Homo sapiens: one gene and its partners. The protein of the gene in region 6 purifies or fractionates together with the protein of the main gene of each other region. This does not show direct contact. Each region holds a gene or a part of one and is shown on either strand. Other genes may lie near its edges. The genes, in order: FKBP14, TUBA8, CACNA2D1, CAT, GSTM5, ERLIN2 and ECH1.

Region 1 (3,308 bases), on a different chromosome or scaffold from region 6:
GTGCACCACCACGCCTGGCTAATTTTTGTATTTTTAGTAGAGACAAGGTTTCACCATGTTGGCCAGGCTGGTCTTGAACTCCTGATCTCAAGTGATCCACCCTCCTTGGCCCCCAAAGTGCTGGGATTACAGGCATGAGCCACCACACCCAGCTAACTTCAGTTTTTGATGAGACAGAAATGGGAAAATGTAGACTGGTTTACTACTTTATCTTATGATACAATGTTATTGTAGTATAATATACTATAGACTACCCATTAAAGAACCAGGAAGGATATTCCGCTAGCCTTAAGAAGTAAATATTGAATATAAATATAACTTTCTACCTCATCTATAACATATTGATACATTTTATTACAAAGAAACTCACACATAAATGATTTGTCCTATTTATCATAATAGGCCACCAATCACTAGGAGCCAAGCTTCATCAGCTTAAGTCCTAGGTAGCATGTCTCAATGCATACATATTTATATGTTATTAACCGTGTTTCTTTTCTTTTTTTCGAGACAGAGTGTCCAGGCTGGAGGTGATCTCGGCTTACCGCAACCTCCGCCTCCGGGTTCAAGTGATTCTGCCGCCTCAGCCTTCCTGGGTAGCTGGGATTACAGGCACGCATCACCACGCCCGGCTACTTTTGTATTTTTAGTAGAGATAGGGTTTCTCCGTGTTGGTCAGGCTGGTCTCGAACTCCCAACCTCAGGTGATCCGCCCGCCTCAGCCTCCCAAAGTGCTGGGATTACAGGCATGAGCCACCATGCCTGGCTATTAACCTTGTTTCTAACTTCAGCATTGCACATCTCCTTAGTAAAGCAGTAGCCATTAACAAGTCAGGTCCAACAACCATTTTCCTCTGGTCCTCAAGCAGAGACTCAGAGCCAGTTACACATAAACTATTTCATTATAACATGAAAATAGCAAGCCTTGGGCTATTGCAAAAGGCTTTTCAAATGTTGACCTCTAACTTGGAGAAAATAGAGGGAAGCAGAAATATAGGGTGCTAATTTGTGCTATAACCTGGTCTCATGTCGTGGTATATTCCCAGTTGCAACATTTTAAATTTATAAGTGAGAAAGTAAAACAAAGCTTCATATCTGTGAAAGTGAAAAATTGTCCAGAAGTCTTCTATTCAAAGACCAATTAGCTTTTTCTTCCCAATAACTTATCAGAAAGAAATGGGTACTTAGAAACCTAAGGGGTTCTTTAAATAGGAGTCAGAAAAAATATATAAAAATAAAAAACAAAGCAAGAAAGAACATTGTATAAAAATAAAATGTTCTTTAAAGATGACTGCCCTCTCTTGAAAGATGAGTGCTATATTAAAAGGGTAGATGTATCTCTATAACTCATCGTGTTTATATGTAAATTCTCTGGCAGATATAAACCCATCTTTGTCTTCATCTTCTTTATCAAAAATATCCTCCACCAAAGCATCATGATGACTTTCATTCACCACCGCACCATGTTTTTCAAACTCCTTCTTTAAATATGCTTTAACCTACAAAATAACAGATCCCATTAATAACTTGGATTCATAAGATACCCACATTGAGCCAATCAATATCACAGACATGGACTGTTATTATATTTAGTTCATTAACTAAATATAATACCTTCTAAACAGCCATTTTATGACATAGTTTTAATGATAATTAAAAAATAATAGAAACTTTTTCCCTTAAAAAAACTGTTGCTAAACTGCTAAAGTGGAGACACAAAATATTGCTCAAAGGCAGGGCCAGGTGTGGTGGCTCATGCCTGTTATCCCAGCACTTTGGGAGGCCCAAGTGGGAAGATTGCTTGAGGTCAGGAGTTGGAGATCAGCCTGGCCGACATAATGAAAGCCCATCTCCACTAAAAATACAAAAAAAAGTTAGCCAGGCATGATGGCATGCGTCTGTAATCCCAGCTATTCAGGAGGCTGAGGCAGTTGAATCGCTTGAACCTGGAAGGCAGAGGTTGCAGTGAATCGAGATTGCGCTGCTGCCCTCCAGCCTGGGCAACAGAGTGAGACTCTGTCAAAAAAATAAAAAATTAAAAAATTAAAAATATATATATATATATAGCTCTCTCTATATATATATTGCTCAAAGGCAGAGATAAAGCTTATGTCATGTATACAATCCTCATATAGGGCTTATATTATTGGAGAATACCCAATGAGAGCATACTACTTGTTCTTAATCTGAATCTAAATACTAGGCATTTCTTTTCTTTTTTTAGACAGAATCTTTTTTTTTTTTTTTTTGAGACGGAGTCTCACTCTGTTGCCCAGGCTGGAGTGCAGTGGCGCAATCTCGGCTCACTGCAAGCTCCGCCTCCCGGGTTCACGCCATTCTCCTGCCTCAGCCTCCCGAGTAGCTGGGACTACAGGCGCCCGCCACCACGCCCAGCTAATTTTTTGTATTTTTAGTAGAGACGGCGTTTCACCGTGTTAGCCAGGATGGTCTCGATCTCCTGACCTCGTGATCTGCCCGCCTCGGCCTCCCAAAGTGCTGGGATTACAGGCGTGAGCCACCGCGCCCGGCCTTTTAGACAGAATCTTGCTCTGTCACCCAGGCTGGAGTGCAGTGGCACCATCTCAGCTCACTGCAACCTCTGCCTCCCAGGCTCAAGCAATCCTCCTACCTCAGCCTCACACGTACCTGGGACTTACAGGCATGTGCTACCACATCTGGCTTTTATATTTTTTGTAGAGATGGGGTTTCACCATGTTGCCCAGGCTGGTCTTGAACTCCTGGGCTCAAGCAATCTAAACCCCTCAGCCTCCCAAAGTGCTGGGATTAGAAGCATGAGCCACTGCACCCCATGGACACTTCTCTTAAAACTAGATTAAATAGTGGCATCTTTGACTTGAATAAATGTCTGCAAGTAGTGGGTCTTTTGGGTTTTGGTTATGATCATGTGATTAGATTGAGTCTAATCACAACCTTTCAATCTCAGAAAGTCAGGTCTGATAAGTGCCTAGACTACAATTTTCCATTTTCATTTGTTTTTTTGTTTTTCTTTTTTTTTTGAAATAGAGTCTTGCTCTGTCACGCAGGCTGGAGTATAGTGGCACGATCTCGGCCCACTACAACTTCCAACTCCCAGGTTCAAGCGATTCACCTGCCTCAGACTCCCTAGTAGCTGGGATTACAGGCACCTGCCACCATGCCTGGCTAATTTTTGTATTTTTAGTAGAGACAGGGTTTCACCAAGTTGGCCAGGCTGGCCTCGAACTCCTGACCTCAGAAGATTTGCCTGCCTTGGCCTCCCAAAGTGCTGGGATTACAGGTGTGAGCCACCATGCCCGGACTCCATTTTC
Region 2 (4,077 bases), on a different chromosome or scaffold from region 6:
GGTAAAGCACTGTGTTTGGTACTCTCTCAAATGCAAAGATGATTACGACACATGTACTATCGTTTATGAATGGGTGGCCAACAGAACAGATTGCCGCATAGGTAAGCAGAAATCTGCTCTCATTCTCTATTGGCCACAAGCAGGCATGTCTTAGGAGCAGAAGGGTAGGAAGATCTCTAACTGTGCTTGGAAACTTGGGGAGTTACCACGTCTGGCTAAAGTGGTATTGTCTTAAGGAAAACCTATGAATTTGCCTGCGTTGGCTTGGTGCTGAGGAAAGTGGAAGAGAGAGGCTGGGGTACACCTTTCAACATGAATGGAACTGACCACTGGAGGGAAAGAACAAGAAACAGCAGTGAGAACAAGGAACAAAGACCATCCAGCCCCTCACCCACCTGGGGGGAAGTGAGGGGAGATGGGCAGGGTGACAACGTGGCCAACATCTAAAGTGTGAAGAGGGGCTTTTACCAAGTGCCCACCCCTTCCCGAGCAGGGGGCAACCAACAGCATCTGGCGGGTCTTACTACTGGGCAGAGGCAGGGGAACCCTGGTATGAGTTCTGGATTACATAGGAGATGTGACTTGGACACGTTTGGGGCTTAAAAGTAGGAAGGGATCAAGGGGGGAGATTTGAAAATCCCGGTGGAGGTGCGAGGTATCCGGGGAGAGGGTAAAAACGGGAACAGTCTTCAGCACCTGCCTGTACCAGGAGCTCTGTGTATGCCATCTCATTTCCGTCTCCAGCAACCAGGCGGGCCTTGGCGGCAGGAGGCACAGGCTTTGGGAGCAGAGGCCCTGCAGCTTGCCAAGCACACACGGCCCTAGGGCGCCCAGCTGAGACGGCACCTTGGCACCCGGGCCCGCTGCAGCCCGCTCCGGTCAGCTGCACCCCAGTCAGGAGCCTTTCCAGCGGGTCGGAGGAGAACGGAAGTTTGGGGAGACCCGCGCGATTCGCCTGGCTGCATTTTACATTTCTTTCTCCGGCAGCTGGGGTCACGAAGGCTGCTCTCGCCGGCGGTGTTGGAACGTGGACACGTGCGCTTTGGTAATAGGGCAGCCTCCCCCGCGGGCGCAGTCCCCGCTGCGAGCGCCCCCGGCTGCTGAGGCGGGACCGAGGACCCGGAGATTTGAGCCGCGGGTGGGCGGGGAGGGGCCTTTGTGACCTGCCCGCCCCTCCCCGGCACTGTGATGCCGGGGGGCAGCTGCGGGCCCGGCGCGCCTGTCCCCGGCGTCCCCCCCTCCCGGTGTGTCACAACGGCGGAGGCGGCTGTATCTGGAGCAGTCGGGGCGGGCAGGCCCAGCTGAGAGGTGCGCGGGCGAGGACAGCGGCAGCGATGGTGAGGCTTCCCGGGGCCAGGCGGGCTGCGGGCGCGCGGCAGGCGTAGGACCGAGAGCCGAGTCTACGCGGAGGCGCACGGACCCGTCTTCCTGGAGCCGCAGGGCTCAAGGCCTTCTGGGGGTGGCAGTTCAGGGTCGAGGAGTCCGCACCCTCGGGCGGGAACACCCGGTGCCCTTTATCGTATGGGGGAAATAGAGACCAGGGGCCAGTTGTTCCTTAAAGGGACCTAAGGGAGCTTTGCGTGCAGACGAGGGGGAGGGAGGCCCTGGGGAGCCCGACGGAGAAGGGGGCGAGATTCTGGGGTCCCCAGATGGGCAGCCTGTGGACAGAGTGGAGAGAAGGGCGAGTCCGGGGATTCTGGATGGGTGGTCTGGGCCGGGGCGACTGGGGGGCCAGATGCAGTCACGTCTCCGAACCCAGCCTAATGTGACAGGGCCCGGAATGTGACAGAGGACCTAGGGCGCCACGGTCCCCCCACGCGTGGAGGTCTTTCTCGCAAGCCTGGCCAGCGGCTTGGGTTTGCTGCACGCACAGCCCCAGCGCGGCGGGGTCCTCCGGGCGCACTCAGCAGCTCCCAAGTCTTTCCAGCGGTCAGAGTCGAAGGACTTTGGGAGTAAGAAGTCTCTGCTTCCAAAGGCCAGGGGACCTTCGACCTGTTTCCTACCCTGGCTTAGGGGGATCGCGGCTGCTCCCTTCCCTGCCCCCGCCCCTGGATCTTACTGAGGGGCGGCTGCAAACACTCAGTTCCTCTTTCTAGGGTCCCCCTCTCCGCCCCCAGTGCCCCTGGTGGTTAACATTTGCCCCCAGTCCACTTTCCCAAAGCCCAGAATCCCAGGAATCCCTCCTGGACCCCTGATCTTTCAGCAGTAGGGAGATGGGCTGGAAAGATTGGGGGCAGAGTGAGGGCAGAATAAGCCTATGTCATGGCCAAGGTCGGGTTCCCTGGGCAGGCTTGCTCCAGGTGTCAGTGATCCAGAAAGCAGGCGAGAACCCCCTCCGCCCCGCCCTGTTACGTTTGGCCCGTGCCCAGGGCCTCCTGGCTCCCCCGGAGCTCTAGCCTTCCAGCTTCAGTTTTGTCAGCACCCTCCCTCCTCCTAGCGGGCTCCCAGACACCCCTGGGAACTGAAAGAACTTGGGAATATTAGGGAGGGTGGCCACAGGAACCTATTTCTGCCTGAGGACCCTGGTATGAGGCCACACAAAGGGCCCGGAGCTGCCAGTTCAGAATTTTGACTCCTGGCTCTGCAGCTAGCTGTGTGACTTCAGGAAGGTCACTTAACCTCTCTGGATGTGTTTGTTTTACCTGCGAAATGAAGAGGGTTATAATTCAAATTTCCAAGACTCCACTTAGATTTCATTATTTTTAAACTTTTTATGGTAGGGAATTTCAAACATATGCAAACGGAGAGCAAATGGTATAATTAGCGATTATATACATCATCTAAGTTCAATAATTACCAACTTCTGACCTGTCTCACTTCATTTATTCCCTCCCTCCATAATTTTGAAGCAAATGCTAGGCTGCATACTCTAGAATTGATATTTAATATTTATAATATCTAGCAGGTAGCTAGTGTTTTAGGATTTTCCAAGTGCTTCCCTTGCATGCTTTAATTTGGATCTGAATGCCATTGTGGTACAGAGTGGAGCCCAGAGGATGTTTACAGGGGCGTGTCGAGGATCTTAACCCAGCCCTGTGCACAAGCTTGAATGTGTGATCCACAGACGTGTTTCTGACAATGCCTGGTAAATCAACAATTCAAACAGCAAAACTTTATTTTGAACGTGCTTAAGAATTTGGGTGTTTAGCTGAAAACCTATGGTTAAATATTTTGAAATGCGACCACCTTTCATTTATTTTGAAACACTCAATTTTGTCTAGTAGGTTCTATCTAGAACATTTAACTTGTGTGCGTTGCACTGTCTTGATGGCTAATATTTTTTGTTGAACATTTTACACTCACAGAAACTTTTAAAATATCATTTGGCTCATTTGTAAAAGGCTAAAATGACACATCTATAAACCTAGACCCCTAGAATCTCACCCTTACAAAAATGACTGTATTTCTTCTAAGGATTAAGTTTCAGGCTGCTGTCCTGTCCCCTTCACTTCCCTCCCTGGTGGGGGTTTGGGGGAGGTGACCTTGGTGTTAAGGAGAATTCGATTTGGAATTTCTGTAGGCTCTGGGCAAGAAAAGTGTAACTAATCCTTAAGTGTATTTTTAAATGCATTTCTCTAGCTGCTAGGCAGATGAGCATTTTTCCTCTGTGAACTTACCCCCAACCCCTTCTCCCCAGCTACCCACTGCACGGTACCACCAATACCCTTTAGCATTTCTGTCCTGGAGCCTAAAGTGACACAGCTGGTAAGAAGCTGCGTAGGGGCTGGAGTTTACATCTGCTGGGCACCAGAGCCTCTGTCCTGAGCCACCTGCCCGTGCTGGGACCGGCAGGCTACTCCCACAGCAGACCATTCCCATCCATTCCCAGTGTTCTAGCACGCAGCTCTCTGGGAACTCAGACTATGACACCTTTTTTGGGAAGTGGTATGGAGAATCCTGGCCAGGTGCCCTAAGCCAAGCCCATGCCAATGATACCAGGGCACAGAGAAGTTTTCTGTGGTTTATGGGGAGGTGGGAACATCTGCAACACGGCTTCTTTAACTCCATTCCGTTAGGACTGGAGAGCACGAAGGAGCCCGTCTCCCTGCAAAAATGGGCAGTTAGAGGGTTCTGGGG
Region 3 (3,500 bases), on a different chromosome or scaffold from region 6:
TATGGTAAAACAAATGATGTGTCAGTTAAGTATCTTCTTTCATTTTTTGCTCTCCTGTTTAACATACATTCTAATATAAATTTTCTTTTGGATTAAAGTAGTAGTTAACCTGTTCTAAGAGTTAACACTAAAATAGATGTTTTTCAGACAAGGAAATTTTGATATGATTATTTCTCTGGGTTAGGTGTTTCTTTTGGAAATGTTTGTCTCCCTAAGGTGTGAAACATAAATACATGATATGGTAGCAGCCACATAATGTGTATTGGTTGATATATAAATGGAAAATATATCATTTTTATGCTATAGTATGCACATGTCGTATTGGTATTTTTAAAATGTAGCTTTCAAAAAGGGTAGTTGTCCGTTTTTCTAGAAATAATTTCTTGTCACATGTTAAAAGACTTCTATTTTAATATTTAGAATTACATGTGTGATAGCCAGTATTATAATGGTAATTTAAATTTGTCCTTAATTTTAGAATCTATTTACAAATGCAATTAAAAAATATATAGTTATAACTGTTAATATCAAACTTTTATCTCAGTCACATCAAAATGCCAGTCAGTCTACAATAATTGGCTGAGAGCCTATTGGTATACAGGGATTTTAATATAAAGTGTACAATGGTATAAATATAAAACTAAGAATTGTGGATATCCACAGGAAATAAGCATAAATTCTCATAGAAGTATAGTACTTTTGGCTTTAATTACTTAGGATATTTTTTTTTCCTGTTATTAGAGAAATTTGTATTTAAGGCTATAAAGGAGAAATTTTGTATGTCAGGATATTGTAATGGATATCTGTTCCATGCATTATAAGTGACATAATTATTCTCACTTGAAGTCAGCAGTTTCTGTTTACATTTTACATACACAAGGAAATGTGCCATATGATCAATTATGAGATAAAATATTAAATGTAAAATAAAACCTGAAACAGTGAACATTAATAAACTTTTCTCAAGTCTTTAATTTTGTTCTCATCGGCTTAACCATATAACATTTACTATTCCACAGATGTATGTTTTAAAATATGCAACAATAGATATATTTTTCCACGTAAGTAGTAATATTATGTTAAATTTATTAATGTTACACATAGCTATATGTGTAGCTATTTGGATTGGCATTTGAATGAAAATTAAGCAGACTGAAATGGATATAATTTTTGAAAAAAATGTAAGAAAATACAAGAATCTAAGCATATTATGGTTTATTAAAGGGAAATGAAATGTGCCTTTATTATCTCCCCCTCCCATGGCTTTCATTAATTTAATTTAATAAATATACATAAAATTTGAATATAAAGTAGGTGGTTCATTTTGACAATAGATAAGAGCTTTACAGTTGTTTTCTTCACAACAAACTGACTGTGTAGACATCTTTCTGTTATTTCTCCAACATTGATAAAACTAACAATAAAATACTCTTCTTTCTAGGGTTTACACATAGTAAATTTTTACAAAAACATAACATATGGAAATTATTATTGTGCTAAAATTTAGTATATATAGGAGTATATATTCATAAACAATAATGCATTGAGAAATTTTACAAATAATTTTTACAATAGTGCTCATAACAAACTATATAATTTACATATTCTCTGGAGTATCATTATATAAAGCACCTCTTAAGGTTTCTCTTGATTTCCCTATTTCTCAATATAGATGCAAGTTTCCAAGAATTTCCTAGCACATGTCTTCAAGCTATTTATAACTTTAAATTGGAGATTTAAATGGGTAAAATGAAACATATCTTAGGCAAATCATGCAATTTGTTGATCTCATTTAATGTCTTATATGTATGGACATAAGCATTTCTAACGTAAGTATACATAACATTTTGGGAAAAAAATCAGAATTTCAGTATTTCAAAAAAGTAACATTTTATTGTTATTAAAATGACAACGGTCCATTATTTCTATTAAAAGAGCTGTCTGTGGTAGTGTTTCAAAAAGCAGGTCAGCTGCTTTCCATGGGGAACAAACTTTGTTCTATTATATCGCCTCCACATTTACTTAAGGCTTACAGTGTGCATCAAGCACTGTGTCACTAACTGTGTCAACCAGTCTTTCTTTTCATGAACTATCTGTGAGCAGTACCACGACTGTTCCCAAGGCTTTCATACAGTTGCTTTCCAGTAAACTAGGAATGGGCTGTGATGGCCAACCATGTAGCTTACACAGGATTCATTTTTTTGTATGTGCACTGAAACATGTAAACGATTGCGTAGTGTTGTTTACAGAGTTGAAAGAAAAAGGCAATTGACCTCAATGTCAATTAAGTAAAAGTGGCAGCACTTTGTGAAAAAATACTATGTTACTACCTTTTCCTTGAGAGTCCAAAATATTAACATCGTATAATTAGATAACTTTCCTAGTTTGTGTCACTATATAGTATTCTATTTAATAGATAGTATTTTATGTATATGCAAATACACATATATACGTGTGTATGTCCATACATATTTTTAAAACTTTAAGTGGATTGACAGAGTAGAAAAACCTCAGTAAGGTAAGTTTATTAACAAGTGTGCATACCTTAGGTCTTCTGTCAGTCCACAACTGTTTTCAGGGATTAAATCTAACTTAATAACACCAGCATTTAAGAATGATTTGCCAAGACAATTAAATGAGATATTGCATACACAAGCAGCCTGAAAATGCTCAAGTCCTATAGAGACGGGTTACTAACATAATTGACAAGTAATTAAAAAAGTGATTCTAAAGACAGTTTTGCTGTCTTTTAAACAAGTGTGAGAAAGAAACTATACCATTTGAAATGTTGGCACCTATTAAAAGTTCTTTACATACTAAGCAGTTTTATTTCTTTCATTTAGATAAGATATACTTTGAAATTTAGAATTAAACATATTTGGTGGTGTGATATTTTAGGAATGAAGGCAAATGTGCACAGGTTTAAAATTTTTATTTGTAAAATATAAGCTCTTAAATATCCCTTCTTTGTAGGCTTTACATCTTTTGTAGTAATTCAGTACATAGAATCAGCTACTCTTAGCAGTTTTTAAAAATGAGTAAAGAAAGCGGTCATTGCTCCTTTATATTTTGCCACTTGTTTGTACAGGTTATGAACGAGGAAAAGATTGACTTTGTGGCCTCAACAAACCGGCACACTTTTTATAGTTAATTTCAATAATTCAGAATTAGGCTGTTATATATAAAGCAATATTTGAAGTTCTCTTTGAATATGAATGTGGGATATTTCTGGCTAAATGTTATTTTAACATTTGCTTCTGCTGATTTTTTTTAACCATATGCTCTGTGGATTTAAAAAATTAGGATACATTTAAAATTCTGTATCATAAATGGAAGAAAAACTTGAACTGGTGGCAGTAGAAAATAATGGTGCTGGCCATTTTAAATGCTTCAGATTTGGGGATAATCTTACTGTCTATTTGAAGCTCTTTTTTTCTGTGTAATTAAAAATACGCTATGGTGGTCTTCTGGCAAATGATGGAAAGCAATTCCAATGTTAT
Region 4 (3,500 bases), on a different chromosome or scaffold from region 6:
TTCAGGCTCCAAAATCATCTTTCTGCTCTTCAGAGCAAGTTTCTTAGCAGATTAGTGTTGAGATTTGTCAAGGGTTTCTGGGGCATCACTAAAAGTTTCAGGCAATGGCCCATCCTGTCAGATTTTAGTACTTTGGACACAGGAAATTAAAAAAGAGGGCAGATGGTATAAACATTGCAAAGCTATGTACCCGTGACAGTGTAAATGAAAGGTTTGATTGTGCTAACTCTCCTGCACTTTCTTTCTGTGTTCCTGTAGAAAGCTGATGTCCTGACCACTGGAGCTGGTAACCCAGTAGGAGACAAACTTAATGTTATTACAGTAGGGCCCCGTGGGCCCCTTCTTGTTCAGGATGTGGTTTTCACTGATGAAATGGCTCATTTTGACCGAGAGAGAATTCCTGAGAGAGTTGTGCATGCTAAAGGAGCAGGTAAGTGCTGTGTTTATTTGCTGTAAAAAGATTGTTTCACAGCACCTGGGTCAAGTGTTATTTCCCAAAGGATTGGAAGACCTTTAACACAAGTGTCAAATCTCCATTTGTGGGAGAAAGGAAAAACATCCAGCAGTAGGGAAATTAGTAAATAAATGATGGTTATTTCCTCAGGTTAAACATTATATATAAAATAGTTTCTTTTAAAAATAGCAGTCTTCCATTTCTCCCATCATTGAAGGAATAAAAATACAATAAGTCCTCACTTAACATCAATAGGTTCTTGGAAACTTTGACTTTAAACGACATGTAATGAAACCAATTTTATGATAGGCTAATTGACGTAAGCAAGAGTTAAGTTCCTATGGCATATTTCTGATTGATAAAACATCATCAAACTTCTAAATAGAGACTCAAAATACCTCTTATATTAAACATTGAAATAAATGTGAGCCATACATACCTTTAAGAAAGATTAGTAAAATAAGATAGTTATTTACTAGCTTATTCCAGTTCAAGGTGGTGGGAGGCCAGAGCCTGTCCTGGCAGGTTGGGGTACAAGGCAAGAGCCAGCCCTGGACAGGATGCTGTCCATTGCAGGGTGGACTCACACTGGGACCATTCAGACATGCCAGTTCACCTAACACGCACATCTTTGGGATGTGGGGGGAAGCTGGAGTACCAGGAGAAAACCTATCTAGACATGGGGAGAACATGCAGACTCCACACAGATGGTGGCCTCAGCTAGGAATAGATTTTTTTCTCATCAACGTTATAATGAAACAACGTTGAACAAAACAATGTTGTTTGAGGACCTGCTGTACAGAAATACAGACATAGACACATGCACTGCAATTGCAACTAAGTTTAAATGATGTACTTACTGGGTAATTACTGGAATGAGCTGCAAAATTTGGGGTAGTTATGTTAGGGTGGTGGGTTTGTGATGATTTTTCCTTTCCTTTTTTCCAACAATTTCTGTAAAACTTTCTTTATCGCTGTTATATCAGACACAAAAGATGGGGGTGGTATTTGAAAGAAAGTGAAAAACTCAGTTGGAAAAAGAGCTCCACAGAAAGGAAGTTTTTCTCTTAGCTTGCTGACTTGGACTTCCAGTTAGGACTTCTGCATTTCTTCATCTCTTCTTCCTGGATAAGGTTTCTCCCCATCTTCTCCAGTGGTTTGTGTGTATTTTTCCATCTTGACTTGTTTAGTTTATTGCTTGCTTTGTATCATCGTTGCTAAGTGTTGAAAAGATTCTTTCTCTTATGTTTTCATCTCCTCTTCTCTCTGTTCTTCACTTTCTCTCATAGGTCCTACCTGTACTTCAGGCCCCTCTGAGACCCTGTGTCCTTGGGCCAACCTTGACGACTTCTAGCCTCACTCACCTCCTTCTCTTGGCTCCAGCTATGTGGCATTCGACTTAGCACTGAATGATAGAATAGGGCTTTGCATTTCACCCTCTTTATTTTGTGTTTGGGCATTTCCCCTTCCTCCAACATACTGGAAGCTCCCAGAAGGCTGGTGCTAACCATCATTTTCTCTTGTCACCCAGGTGCCTGTTGAGGACCTGAATGTCTGAGTAATGGTCTCATGGTAAGGATTTCTGTGTCTTTCTCGTTAGGGGCCTTTGGCTACTTTGAGGTCACACATGACATTACCAAATACTCCAAGGCAAAGGTATTTGAGCATATTGGAAAGAAGACTCCCATCGCAGTTCGGTTCTCCACTGTTGGTAAGTTGGTTTATTGGCGTGATTGGTATGGCTTAACTCAACTTCACCTTTTGGGGATGTTTATAACTTAAAGAAAAAGTTATTAGAAAATAGGAAGCAAGCACTTCTCCAAATTATGTCAAGGTTTTACAGTAGAAGACATATTTGGAGACACATAGGAAGTTACTTGTATTTCTGTTTGTTGAGGTCTTAGGAAATCACACTTACACAGAGGCTACCTCTGCAATTCTGTGACATTTGGAAAGAGCTTTCCTAAAAGTGGTTGCCTCTAACAGAAGAATAGAGTGGAAATCTTATTTAATAACTATGCCTACAGCTGACCTTTATTGAGAATTAATTCTGTGCCAACTGTGGTTAGGTGCTTTACAGATATAATCTCTGATTTGTAGATCTACTTTGCAGAGTGGGATTCTTTTTATTTTTGAGAGGCTAAGTGATGTTTCTCACGTTACAGAGATAGTATTAGATCTATCATACTATATTTCAACATACCTAGTGCTTCACTAGTTCCGTTTCTGTGTCAGTCTCTGCATTTTAAAAATACTGTGGAATGTAAAAATAAATGAAATTAAGAACTAAGAACCAATATTTTAACTCATTTTCTTAATGTTAACCTCATCATTTTGACAACTCACTTATTCTGTTTGTCACTACTTTAAGCCTCATAATTATTTTCTTCCCTTATTTTAATTAAAAGTTCAATTACCTGTTTGAACAAAGTTATCTTATTATGGTAAATGAATGACATTGTCAGCTGTTATTACATGTGTTCTCTTATTGCTCTCAATTAATTATTTTGTTTGATTTGTGGACTGAATTAGCTGGTGGGTAGAAATAATAACCCGGGCACTTAAATACCTAATTTAGTTCTTGGAAGTGGATTAGAAAGGATGGATCCAGGTGCTTCTTTATGTCTCCAGGCTTCTTGGATGCAAAGTGCTGTGGCTTATGCTTCCTGTTTCCATTTGAATATTGTAGCTGGAGAATCGGGTTCAGCTGACACAGTTCGGGACCCTCGTGGGTTTGCAGTGAAATTTTACACAGAAGATGGTAACTGGGATCTCGTTGGAAATAACACCCCCATTTTCTTCATCAGGGATCCCATATTGGTAGGTAATAGAGTATTTTGCACTCAACAAATGTTTGTTGACTTAAATTGATTTCAAATAGGTTGGCATTTGAGGAGAAGCCGTGGGAAAGGCAGAAAGAAAAGAATGCGAGTTGTCTGGACTACTTTTTTCAACACATTTTTCTGTATTTAATAAGATAAAGTAAGAACAGTTACCATTGGTCTTAGATTTGTCATTTTAAGACAGATTGACTTAATGGGAAGTG
Region 5 (3,518 bases), on a different chromosome or scaffold from region 6:
CATCCTCCTTTCTCTTTGATGCCCCTTGTTCCTTTCTCTCCTTTCAGATGCTTTCCCAGTCCTGGAGCTACACAAAGAATAACTCGTATGTATTGAGTACGGGCTTCATGCCAGGAATCATGCCCAGCACATTATACCTATCGTGTAGAATTTGAAATTTCCAACATTCCTACAGGGTGACAGAATTATCTTGCCCATTTTAGAGATAAGAAAACTGAGAATGAGAGGGTCAGTCCTTTGCTCAGGGTCCCAGAGCCAGTGGAGGCTGTGCTGGGCTCCCTGTGAGCCTCTGGATCTATGGGTGGCAGTCAGGGCTCTCCCATTTGTGACAAAAGGAGAAGCCTCAGGCCTCATCCAGCCTGGGTTTCACAGCCCAGAACACTTTGAAAGAGGCAGAGCACTTCAGGACCACGGATGCAGCTGGCAATAGTAGGACTGACACACAGTGGCATTGATGTTGAGTACTAAACCTGCAGGCAGTATTCATAGCCACCCCCAGAAGCTTTGCATGATCGGACCCCCATGTGGAAAATCCTGAGATCCGGAGCTGTGGCTGGAGCTGGATTAGGGTACATATGTGGGTGCCCCTGTTGAAGCAGTGTGTGTTGAAGTGCTCTGTGCTGGGGCACTCTCCTTCTTTATCTTTCTTCCTCTCTTTTTTTCCCTCCAATGTTCCACGTCTTCCCCCTGTGAGATGAGTAGCACACTGATTTTACTCCTATTCACCGACCTTCTCCTCTGCATGAGGCAGGGTGTGAGGCACAGTGGGAGTTGCATAGATGACTGCCCCATCCTGGAAATGAGTGCAGTGAGAGGCCTGCAGGCAGAGCAGCCTGTGAGGTGTGTGTGGCACCACCTGGGTACCGGGCCTGGGGCCTGCCCCTCACTCACGGGGAACCATCCCTCACCTGTGTTGAAGTTGTTTGAGAGCAGCAAATCCTACTTTAGTACAGATTTGGGGATTTGAGGCATTAGTCCAACAGGCTTCTGAGCCTAGAATCTGTTTCCCTTTCCCACTCCCCATCAAGAAATCTGCTTGCTCAGCTAGTTCCCATCAGCTCTGGTTCTGGTCCAGCCTGAGCAGCCTTGGGGTTATGTAAGAGGTGGTGGGAGGGGAGCGGTGGGGAACAGCCGAGGGCTGGGGCATGGAGCCTGCCTGGGCCTGGCCCTGGCCCTTTGGGGAGAGGGAGCCCTGGATCTCTTTGAATTCTTTAGAAGTTACATGGTCATTGAATCCTGGTAAGATTGTGTGCAGCACACCTGAGTGTCATGTGGCCTGGCTAGCAGTAGTAGGGCTGGAGATGTGATGGGGGCACAGGGACATAGGGAGATTTAGCTCAGGTACCAGGTGGAGAAGTTTGGACTTTATGCTTTAATGGGAATGATTAGAGCCTGGTCTGGCCTTCCTTTGGTGGTTCACCCTTACCCTATTCAGTTTCATCCAGGTTTTGCTAAGTCATTGGGTGAGATCTGTGCTCTCTTCTTGGCTGCACAGGTGTGTTCTGAGCCCCTTTGTTCTGCTGGAGGTCCTTTCTGTGTGTGCAATCCTAGGCAAGCCAAGAACCTCCCTGTGAAAAAGGAGAATGTTTGTGCCGACAAGGAGTGACAGGATCTGGCATGGGGTGTGGCTGGGTGGAAGAGGAGGAGAATTTGGCAAAAACATGCTAGAACTGAAGACAGAACCAGGCTATATTCCAGCCCTGTCCCACTTACTAGCTATTTGAGTGTGAGGAAGTTGCTGAACTTCTGTTCTTCTATATGAGAAACGGTGATAATAGAACTGACCATGGAGGGTAGTCGAGTGGATTTTCTAAGCCTGTGTTGTAATTTCTGTTGGATATAAAGCACCCAGCACAGTGTAGATCTTTCGTAAATGGTAGCTGTTATTATGGTATAACATTACTTAAAGGAAGTTGGAAGAGTTAACTTAGAAGAGCTGGGGACCTAAGAGACCGTGTGATGCTCCAGCACTTGAGCCCACATGGAAAGGCTGTGGCCAGGGCCCTGACCTGCTGTGCCTGCAGCAAAGCTACTTGAGCCCTTCTAGACAGCAGACCTGGCTCTGGCCCCTTCTTCCCGCCCTCAGGGTTTGAAGAAGATCTCTGCCTACATGAAGTCCAGCCAATTCCTCCGAGGTCTTTTGTTTGGAAAGTCAGCTACATGGAACAGCAAATAGGGCCCAGTGATGCCAGAAGATGGGAGGGAGGAGCCAACCTTGCTGCCTGCGACCCTGGAGGACAGCCTGACTCCCTGGACCTGCCTTCTTCCTTTTTCCTTCTTTCTACTCTCTTCTCTTCCCCAAGGCCTCATTGGCTTCCTTTCTTCTAACATCATCCCTCCCCGCATCGAGGCTCTTTAAAGCTTCAGCTCCCCACTGTCCTCCATCAAAGTCCCCCTCCTAACGTCTTCCTTTCCCTGCACTAACGCCAACCTGACTGCTTTTCCTGTCAGTGCTTTTCTCTTCTTTGAGAAGCCAGACTGATCTCTGAGCTCCCTAGCACTGTCCTCAAAGACCATCTGTATGCCCTGCTCCCTTTGCTGGGTCCCTACCCCAGCTCCGTGTGATGCCCAGTAAAGCCTGAACCATGCCTGCCATGTCTTGTCTTATTCCCTGAGGCTCCCTTGACTCAGGACTGTGCTCGAATTGTGGGTGGTTTTTTGTCTTCTGTTGTCCACAGCCAGAGCTTAGTGGATGGGTGTGTGTGTGTGTGTGTTGGGGGTGGTGATCAGGCAGGTTCATAAATTTCCTTGGTCATTTCTGCCCTCTAGCCACATCCCTCTGTTCCTCACTGTGGGGATTACTACAGAAAGGTGCTCTGTGCCAAGTTCCTCACTCATTCGCGCTCCTGTAGGCCGTCTAGAACTGGCATGGTTCAAAGAGGGGCTAGGCTGATGGGGAAGGGGGCTGAGCAGCTCCCAGGCAGACTGCCTTCTTTCACCCTGTCCTGATAGACTTCCCTGATCTAGATATCCTTCGTCATGACACTTCTCAATAAAACGTATCCCACCGTATTGTAATCATGGTACTTGTTTTTCACCCAAACTCAATCATAAATTTATTGAAGAGAAAAGCCATGTCTTACTGAACTTTTTACCTCGAGTATCATTCACAGTTCCTGAAATACAGTAAATGTTTAACACATGTGAAAATTTGAAAGAATTCCCTCAAGGGAAGATTCTGCCAACCTGTACAGTCATTATTGGGATTTAGAGCTCTGGATATAGTTGTATTAACCAGAGAAGATATAGGATAACGTTCAGAAGATTTTACATGTACGTGTCTTAGAGAATGAGCCAGCAGCTCTCTGTAACTTCAGCTTTAATAGCTGCTAGCTGTCCTTTGAATAGCTTAACCTGAGATGGGGCAGCCTGGTTTGTTGGGTCACACAGTAGCAATCTGTGTGGTCAGCAGGTGTCAGTATTTTATATGAAGTCATCTGCAAAGGAGCAGGACTCATTGGATAACCATCTGATGAGCAGGTTCCTCCAACAGTGGCTGGATAGTGGAGTTGGGCCTT
Region 6 (2,645 bases):
TTGTTAGAGCAACATGACATGCCCAGCATCCCACTTCCCGAAAATGTCTACTCCTTCTACTCTGAGCTCTTGTTGCCTAGACCTCAGAAAACACCAATTCACCACAGTAGAACCGGGAGCAGGGATAGCTCAGCTTCTCTGAATAGCACACTTTGCTCAGGTCTTAACTTGAGGGCCTCTCCGGTACTAACATCCTGCGATAGCTTGTCCCATGAGCACAGAAGAGCCTCAGTAGAGTCAAGTCCTGCTGCAGCTGCCCCACCCCAAGTTTCTATCATTTCCTCTTTAAACAAAAAATATGTTATCCTACACATTAGTGTCAATCCAATGGTTGTCTCTTATCTGTCTAAATAGCAAAATCATGAAAATCAGCTGTTTTATTTGCATAGGACAACTAACCTGTCTGTGTAACTTTGTTTTTATTTTAACTCTTACTAGAAAATCTAATCTTAAAACATTTGAATTCTAAACATGTAAAATGTGACAGCCTGCAATTTTGTAGACAGTGAAGTAATGGCTGCTATTTATAAATGGAACATCTATCAAAATAAGTAACTGTTTATAAAATTCAGTTTTTGTAGGGTTTTCCAAGGAAAAATCACCTTGGTTGAATGTTTCTCACTCATTAAACTTTGCAGAAGTGATTCATATTCAGTACTGTTTTTAATCACTTTTTAAAATATAAGGACCGAATGCAAGGAAACCAAAGTTTATTAATAATTTTTATATAACTAAAATAAAATAGATGTGGAGGGATCTGTGATCATATAAAAAGGGAGGGTTACTGAAAGAATTTTAGCAATATATTGATTCAGGAAAAGGAGCTGTTTTATAAATGATCATTCACTGTTCCTATGGTTCTATGTATCTTTCAAACCGATACCTTTACTATTTAAAGAGCGTAAATAGTGAAAGTAAGATGGTCATACTTACTGACTTTATCTATTTAAGTTTGATGGAGATAAACTATATCTTGGCTAGTGGCTACTGTGTCTGTGAATGTAACCAGTACTTCTTTAAGCTCTATTCAGTAGGGTTCCAGCCACTGCTTTTTTGTTGTTTCTAGCCACTGTTTTTTTTTTCTTGTTTCCTTATAAAACAGGTAATAACCAATCATTTTGTGTTTGTATTTCCATTCCTTTTTATTTCTGCCTTTGTGTAGACTGATGATTAAGTAGGCAAACTACTTCTACTTTCAAAGAGCCCCAAGGGCTTAATGACCCCATTTGTAACTGAGAAATGATTCTTGTTTTAGTAATCATTCTATAAATGATACTGCTGGATTGATTGCCGTGGGTTGATAGCTGGAGGAATTGTTTTGGACAATACTAACATGTGAATTTATGTCTTAGTTTTATTTGCAGTCTTGCTAAGTAAAATGAGTCTTTGTATCTACTTTTTTATTAAAGTGAAATTTAGCAATAGTTAATATTAGGTGACATAAATAAAACATCCCAGACTAGTGAGTTAAGTACAAGATCTCTCTAAAAATAAACAGATGAAAATCTATCCCCATTATCGATACAGAATTTGTGAACGTGGCATAATTCTTGGTAGGTGCTATAGAGATTTATCATTTTAAACAGTTCACACACCACTGCAATTCTGCTCCAAAGGACAAAGATATTTTCAAGTGAACCAAAATTCATTTTGATATCAGTTCAGTGGACGAACTCCCAGTCTTTACTCTGGAAAGCTGCCCAGCTTAGGGTTGCCAGATAAAACATAAGATACCTAGTTAAATATGAATTTCAACAATGTACAATTTTTAGTCTAAGTACTATGTGTCCTAAACACTGCATGAGACATACTCATACCAAAGTATTTGTTGCTTATGTGTAATTCATATTTAACTGGGTATCCTGTATTTTTACTTGTTAAGTCCGGCAACCCTAGCCCAGGCTTTCTCAGGTTTTTTTTAACAGGGATCCCAAGCTTTTTCTATTGGTTTGAGAGCCTGCTACACAAATAATATGATCTTAACAATTGAATAGTTATGTTAAGAGTGTAGTTACTGCAGTTAGACTGCCAAAGTTCAAATCACTGCTCTACTACTTCTTAGGTGTGTGGTCTTGAATAAGTTTTTTGACCTCTCTAAGCCTCAGTTTCTTCATTAATAAAATGAGTTGCATGGCTTATATGAAATAATGCATACGAAGGGCTTTCACACTGTACCTTGCATGTATGTATTCAAAAACTTCAATCTGGAGAAACGGGCTAAAAAACATACAGCTATTAAATGGGAGCCACTAAGTAGAAAGCCAAACACGTGAAAAAAAATGGAATAAGATTACAAATGGGATAGCACATAGAAGAAGGGAATGACATTGCAATGCAGCAAACACAGTATTGAGGATACATACCTCTACAAAAATGTTGTGTAGAAAATAACCTGGTTTAAAGAAAGAAAAGAAAAGAAAAGAAGCCAGGCACGGTGGTTCACACCTGTAATCCTAGCACTTTGGGAGGCTGAGGTGGGTGGATCACCTGAGGTCGGGAGTTCAAGACCAGCCTGACCAACATAGAGAAACCCCATCTCGACTAAAAATAGAAAATTAACCGGGCATGGTGGTGCATGCCTGAAATCCCAGCTACTTGGGAGGCTAAGGCAGGAGAATCACTTGAACCTGGGAGGTAGAGGATGC
Region 7 (3,500 bases), on a different chromosome or scaffold from region 6:
CTGTGTTCTAGAAGGACTAAGGAGAATTAGAAAAAGCCCATGAATTATTCAATGATGTCCACCATAACTCAGGGAAAGGAAGAAAATCCTTCTGCCTTCCTCGAGCAGCTATAGGAGGCCTTAAGAAAATATACTCCCCGGTCACCCGAATCACTCAAGGGTCAATTGATTCTAAAAGATAAGTTTATTATCCAATCAGCCGCAGATATCAGGAGAAAGCTCCAAAAGCAAGCCCTGGGCCCTGAACAAAATTTGGAGGCATTATCAAAACCTGGCAACCTCAGTGTTCTATAATAGGGACCAAGAGGAACAGGCCCAAAAGGAAAAGTGAGATTGGAGAAAGGCCGCAGCCTTAGTTATGGCCCTCAGACTAACAAACCTTAGTGGTTCAGAGAGGACAGATAGTAGAGGCCAATCACCCGGTAGGGCTTGTTATCATGCGGTTTACTAGGACACTTTAAAAAAGATTGTCCAATGAGAAACAAGCTGCCCCCTCGTCCATGTCCACTATGCCGAGGCAATCACTGGAAGGTGCACTGCCCCAGCGGACGAAGGTTCCCTAGGTCAGAAGCCCCCAACCAGATGATCCAACAACAGGACAGAGGGTGCCCGGGGCAAGCGCCAGCTCATGTCATCACCCTCACTGAGCCCCGGGTACGTTTAACCATTGAGGGCCAGGAAACTGACTTCCTCCTGGACACTGGCGCGGCCTTCTCAGTGTTAATCTCCTGTCCTGGACGACTGTCCTCAAGGTCTGTTACCATCCGATGAATCCTGGGACAGCCTGTAACCAGGTATTTCTCCCACCTCTCAGTTGTAATTGGGAGACTTTGCTCTTTTCACATGCCTTTCTTATTATGCCTGAAAGTTCCACACCCTTATTAGGCAGGGACATATTAGCCAAGGCTGGAGCTATTATCTACATCAATATGGGGAACAAGTTACCCATTTGTTGTCCCCCTACTTGTGGAGGGAATCAACCCTGAAGTCTGGGCATTGGAAGGACAATTTGGAAGGGCAAAAAATGCCCGCCCATTACAAATCAGGTTAAAAGATCCCACTGCTTTTCCTTATCAAAGGCAATATCCCTTAAAGCCTGAAGCTCATAAACGATTACAGAATATTGTTAAACATTTAAAAGCTCCAGGCTTAGTAAGGAAATGCAGCAGTCCCTACAACACCCCAATTCTAGGAGTACAAAAACTAAATGGTCAGTGGAGACTAGTGCAAGATCTTAGACTCATCAATGAGGCAGTAATTTCTCTATATCCAGCTGTAACCAACACCTATACCCTGCTCTCTCAAATAACAGAGGCAGCAGAATGGTTCACAGTTCTAGACCTCAAGGATGCCTTCTTCTGTATTCCCCTACACTCTGACTCCCAGTTTCTCTTTGCCTTTGAGGATCCCACAGACCACACGTCCCAAATTATGTGGACGGTCTTGCCCCAAGGGTTTAGGGATAGGCCTCATCTGTTTGGTCAGGCACTGGCCCAAGATCTAGGCCACTTCTCAAGTCCAGGCACTCTGGTCCTTCAATATATGGATGATTTACTTTTGGCTCCCAGTTCAGAAGCCTCGAGCCAGCAGGCTACTCTAGATCTCTTGAACTTTCTCGCTAATCAAGGGTACAAGGTGTCTAGGTCAAAGGCCCAGCTTTGCCTACAGCAGGTCAAATATCTAGGCCTAATCTTAGCCAGAGGGACCAGGGCCCTCAGCAAGGATGGAGAGGGAGGACAGGGAGGAGAGGGAGAAGGAGGGGAAGGAGGGGAAGGAGGAAGGGAGGAGAGGGAGGGAGGGGAAGGAGGAAGGGAGGAGAGGGAGGGAGGGGAGGGAGAAAGGGGAGGGAAAGAAAGAAAGGGACCTGGGAATATGTTAATGGACAAAACAGAAAGAAATAGTTTACTGTCTGTCTTCCCCACTGAGTTGGGAACGCCATGACAACAGGGCCTGGGACTGTCCTAGTCAAGACTGGGTTCCCAGCACCAGGCTCTGGGCCCTGTGCAGAAATCAGTGTATGAAATATTTTGCTTCTGGTTCAGTCCTAAAGGGCCAACCCTCCCACGGACAACTACATACGCTGGCTGGACAAGAAACAAACAATTATCTGAAGGCACTGGGCAGATTCTGGAGGGAGTGACCACTTAGGAGAGTGGCAGAACACTCTCTCGGTGTTTTTGAAAATGGTTTTGAAAACTTTCAGCCTGAGGGCAGACTGAAATTGTGCTTGAAGAGCCACAGGATAGAGTCCAAGGTGACCAAAGCTGCCGGGAAGTGAGGGGGGATATTCCAAAGAGGGGAGAGCCAGAGCGAGGAGTCCCGAATTCTGTGTATCAACTCTGCCCTAATCTCTTGCTGGGAGATGTATGTTTTTGTTGTTGTTTTTGTTTTGAGATGGGTTCTTGCACTGTCACCCAGGCTGGGTGCAGTGGCACGACCACAGCTCACTGCAGTTTTGACCTCCCTGGTTCGAGCCATCCTCCCACCTCAGCCTCCAGAGTAGCTGGGAGTGTGGTCATTCATCACACCCAGCTAATTTTTGTTAGAGACAAGGTCTCAGTGTGTTGCCCTGGCTGAAGATTAGTTTTTAAATCTTTTGCTGGGGGTGCATGTATGGTCTGTAAATCAGCAAGAAGCCAGGCACAGTGGTTCACGCTTGTAGTCCCAGCACATTGGGAGGCCGAGTCAGGAGGATCGCTTGAGTTCAAGAGTTGAAGACCAGACTGGGCAACATAGCAAGACCTCATCTCTACAAAAAAATAAAAATAAAAACAGAAAAACCAAAAAAACTAATTCCAACTAAGCTACCAAAACACGAAACTCAACACTCTTTGGAACTATATGATAGAATCCAGAGTATCCACATCTTATTCCTATATCCCAATATCCAAGAAACAATCCAAACTAACTCAAAATACAAAGAAACAGGAAAGTGAAGCCGTTTTCTTTTTTTTGAGACAGAGTCTCGCTCTTGTCACCAAGGCTGGAGTGCAATGGCGTGATGTAGGCTCACTGCAACCTCTGCCTCCTGGGTTCAAGCGATTCTCCTGCCTCAGGCTCTCCAGCAGCTGGGATTACAGGCATGCACCACCACGCCGGGAAAATTTTTGTATTTTTAGTACAGACGGGGTTTCACCATGTTGGCCAGGCTAGTCTTGAACTCCTGACCTCAAGTGATCCACCCACCTCAGCTTCCCAAAGTGCTGGGATTACAGGCATGAGCCACTGAGCCCAGCCTGCCATTTCCAAGCGAAAAGATGATAAGGAGACTGACCCCAAGATGACCCAGATGTTGAGATTAGAAGATAAGGAGTTTTTGTTTTGTTTTTATTTTGTTTTTAGAGGGAGTCTCGCTATGTCACCCAGGCTGGAGTGCAGTGGCGCCATCTCGGCTCACTGCAACCTCTGCCTCCCAGGTTCACGCCATTCTCCTGCCTCAGCCTCCCGAGTAGCTGGGACTAAAGGTGCCCGCCACCATGCCTGGCTAATATTCTTTTTTT

The links.
Region 1: the proteins of ERLIN2 (region 6) and FKBP14 purify together in Homo sapiens (affinity purification with mass spectrometry; 3 studies listed by BioGRID and IntAct, with this or other methods). This does not show direct contact.
Region 2: the proteins of ERLIN2 (region 6) and TUBA8 purify together in Homo sapiens (affinity purification with mass spectrometry; 2 studies listed by BioGRID and IntAct, with this or other methods). This does not show direct contact.
Region 3: the proteins of ERLIN2 (region 6) and CACNA2D1 purify together in Homo sapiens (affinity purification with mass spectrometry; 2 studies listed by BioGRID and IntAct, with this or other methods). This does not show direct contact.
Region 4: the proteins of ERLIN2 (region 6) and CAT purify together in Homo sapiens (affinity purification with mass spectrometry, with the first as the bait; one large-scale study listed by BioGRID). This does not show direct contact.
Region 5: the proteins of ERLIN2 (region 6) and GSTM5 purify together in Homo sapiens (affinity purification with mass spectrometry; 3 studies listed by BioGRID and IntAct, with this or other methods). This does not show direct contact.
Region 7: the proteins of ERLIN2 (region 6) and ECH1 purify together in Homo sapiens (co-immunoprecipitation; one large-scale study listed by IntAct). This does not show direct contact.

The regions. Positions count from the first base shown.
Region 1 is NC_000007.14:30,013,395-30,016,702, forward strand, and holds part of FKBP14 (peptidyl-prolyl cis-trans isomerase FKBP14 precursor), read right to left. Parts: intron 1,500-3,308; coding exon 1,341-1,499; 3' UTR 1-1,340. UniProt on the Homo sapiens protein: PPIase which accelerates the folding of proteins during protein synthesis. Has a preference for substrates containing 4-hydroxylproline modifications, including type III collagen. May also target type VI and type X collagens.
Region 2 is NC_000022.11:18,109,532-18,113,608, forward strand, and holds the start of TUBA8 (tubulin alpha-8 chain), read left to right. Parts: upstream 1-1,277; 5' UTR 1,278-1,334; coding exon 1,335-1,337; intron 1,338-4,077.
Region 3 is NC_000007.14:82,437,278-82,440,777, reverse strand, and holds part of CACNA2D1 (voltage-dependent calcium channel subunit alpha-2/delta-1 isoform 1 preproprotein), read left to right. Parts: intron 1-3,500. UniProt on the Homo sapiens protein: The alpha-2/delta subunit of voltage-dependent calcium channels regulates calcium current density and activation/inactivation kinetics of the calcium channel. Plays an important role in excitation-contraction coupling.
Region 4 is NC_000011.10:34,448,934-34,452,433, forward strand, and holds part of CAT (catalase), read left to right. Parts: intron 1-258; coding exon 259-430; intron 431-2,054; coding exon 2,055-2,165; intron 2,166-3,143; coding exon 3,144-3,274; intron 3,275-3,500. UniProt on the Homo sapiens protein: Catalyzes the degradation of hydrogen peroxide (H(2)O(2)) generated by peroxisomal oxidases to water and oxygen, thereby protecting cells from the toxic effects of hydrogen peroxide.
Region 5 is NC_000001.11:109,715,251-109,718,768, forward strand, and holds the end of GSTM5 (glutathione S-transferase Mu 5), read left to right. Parts: intron 1-2,086; coding exon 2,087-2,176; 3' UTR 2,177-3,018; downstream 3,019-3,518. UniProt on the Homo sapiens protein: Conjugation of reduced glutathione to a wide number of exogenous and endogenous hydrophobic electrophiles.
Region 6 is NC_000008.11:37,756,278-37,758,922, forward strand, and holds the end of ERLIN2 (erlin-2), read left to right. Parts: 3' UTR 1-2,145; downstream 2,146-2,645. UniProt on the Homo sapiens protein: Component of the ERLIN1/ERLIN2 complex which mediates the endoplasmic reticulum-associated degradation (ERAD) of inositol 1,4,5-trisphosphate receptors (IP3Rs) such as ITPR1.
Region 7 is NC_000019.10:38,825,295-38,828,794, forward strand, and holds part of ECH1 (delta(3,5)-Delta(2,4)-dienoyl-CoA isomerase, mitochondrial precursor), read right to left. Parts: intron 1-3,500. UniProt on the Homo sapiens protein: Isomerization of 3-trans,5-cis-dienoyl-CoA to 2-trans,4-trans-dienoyl-CoA.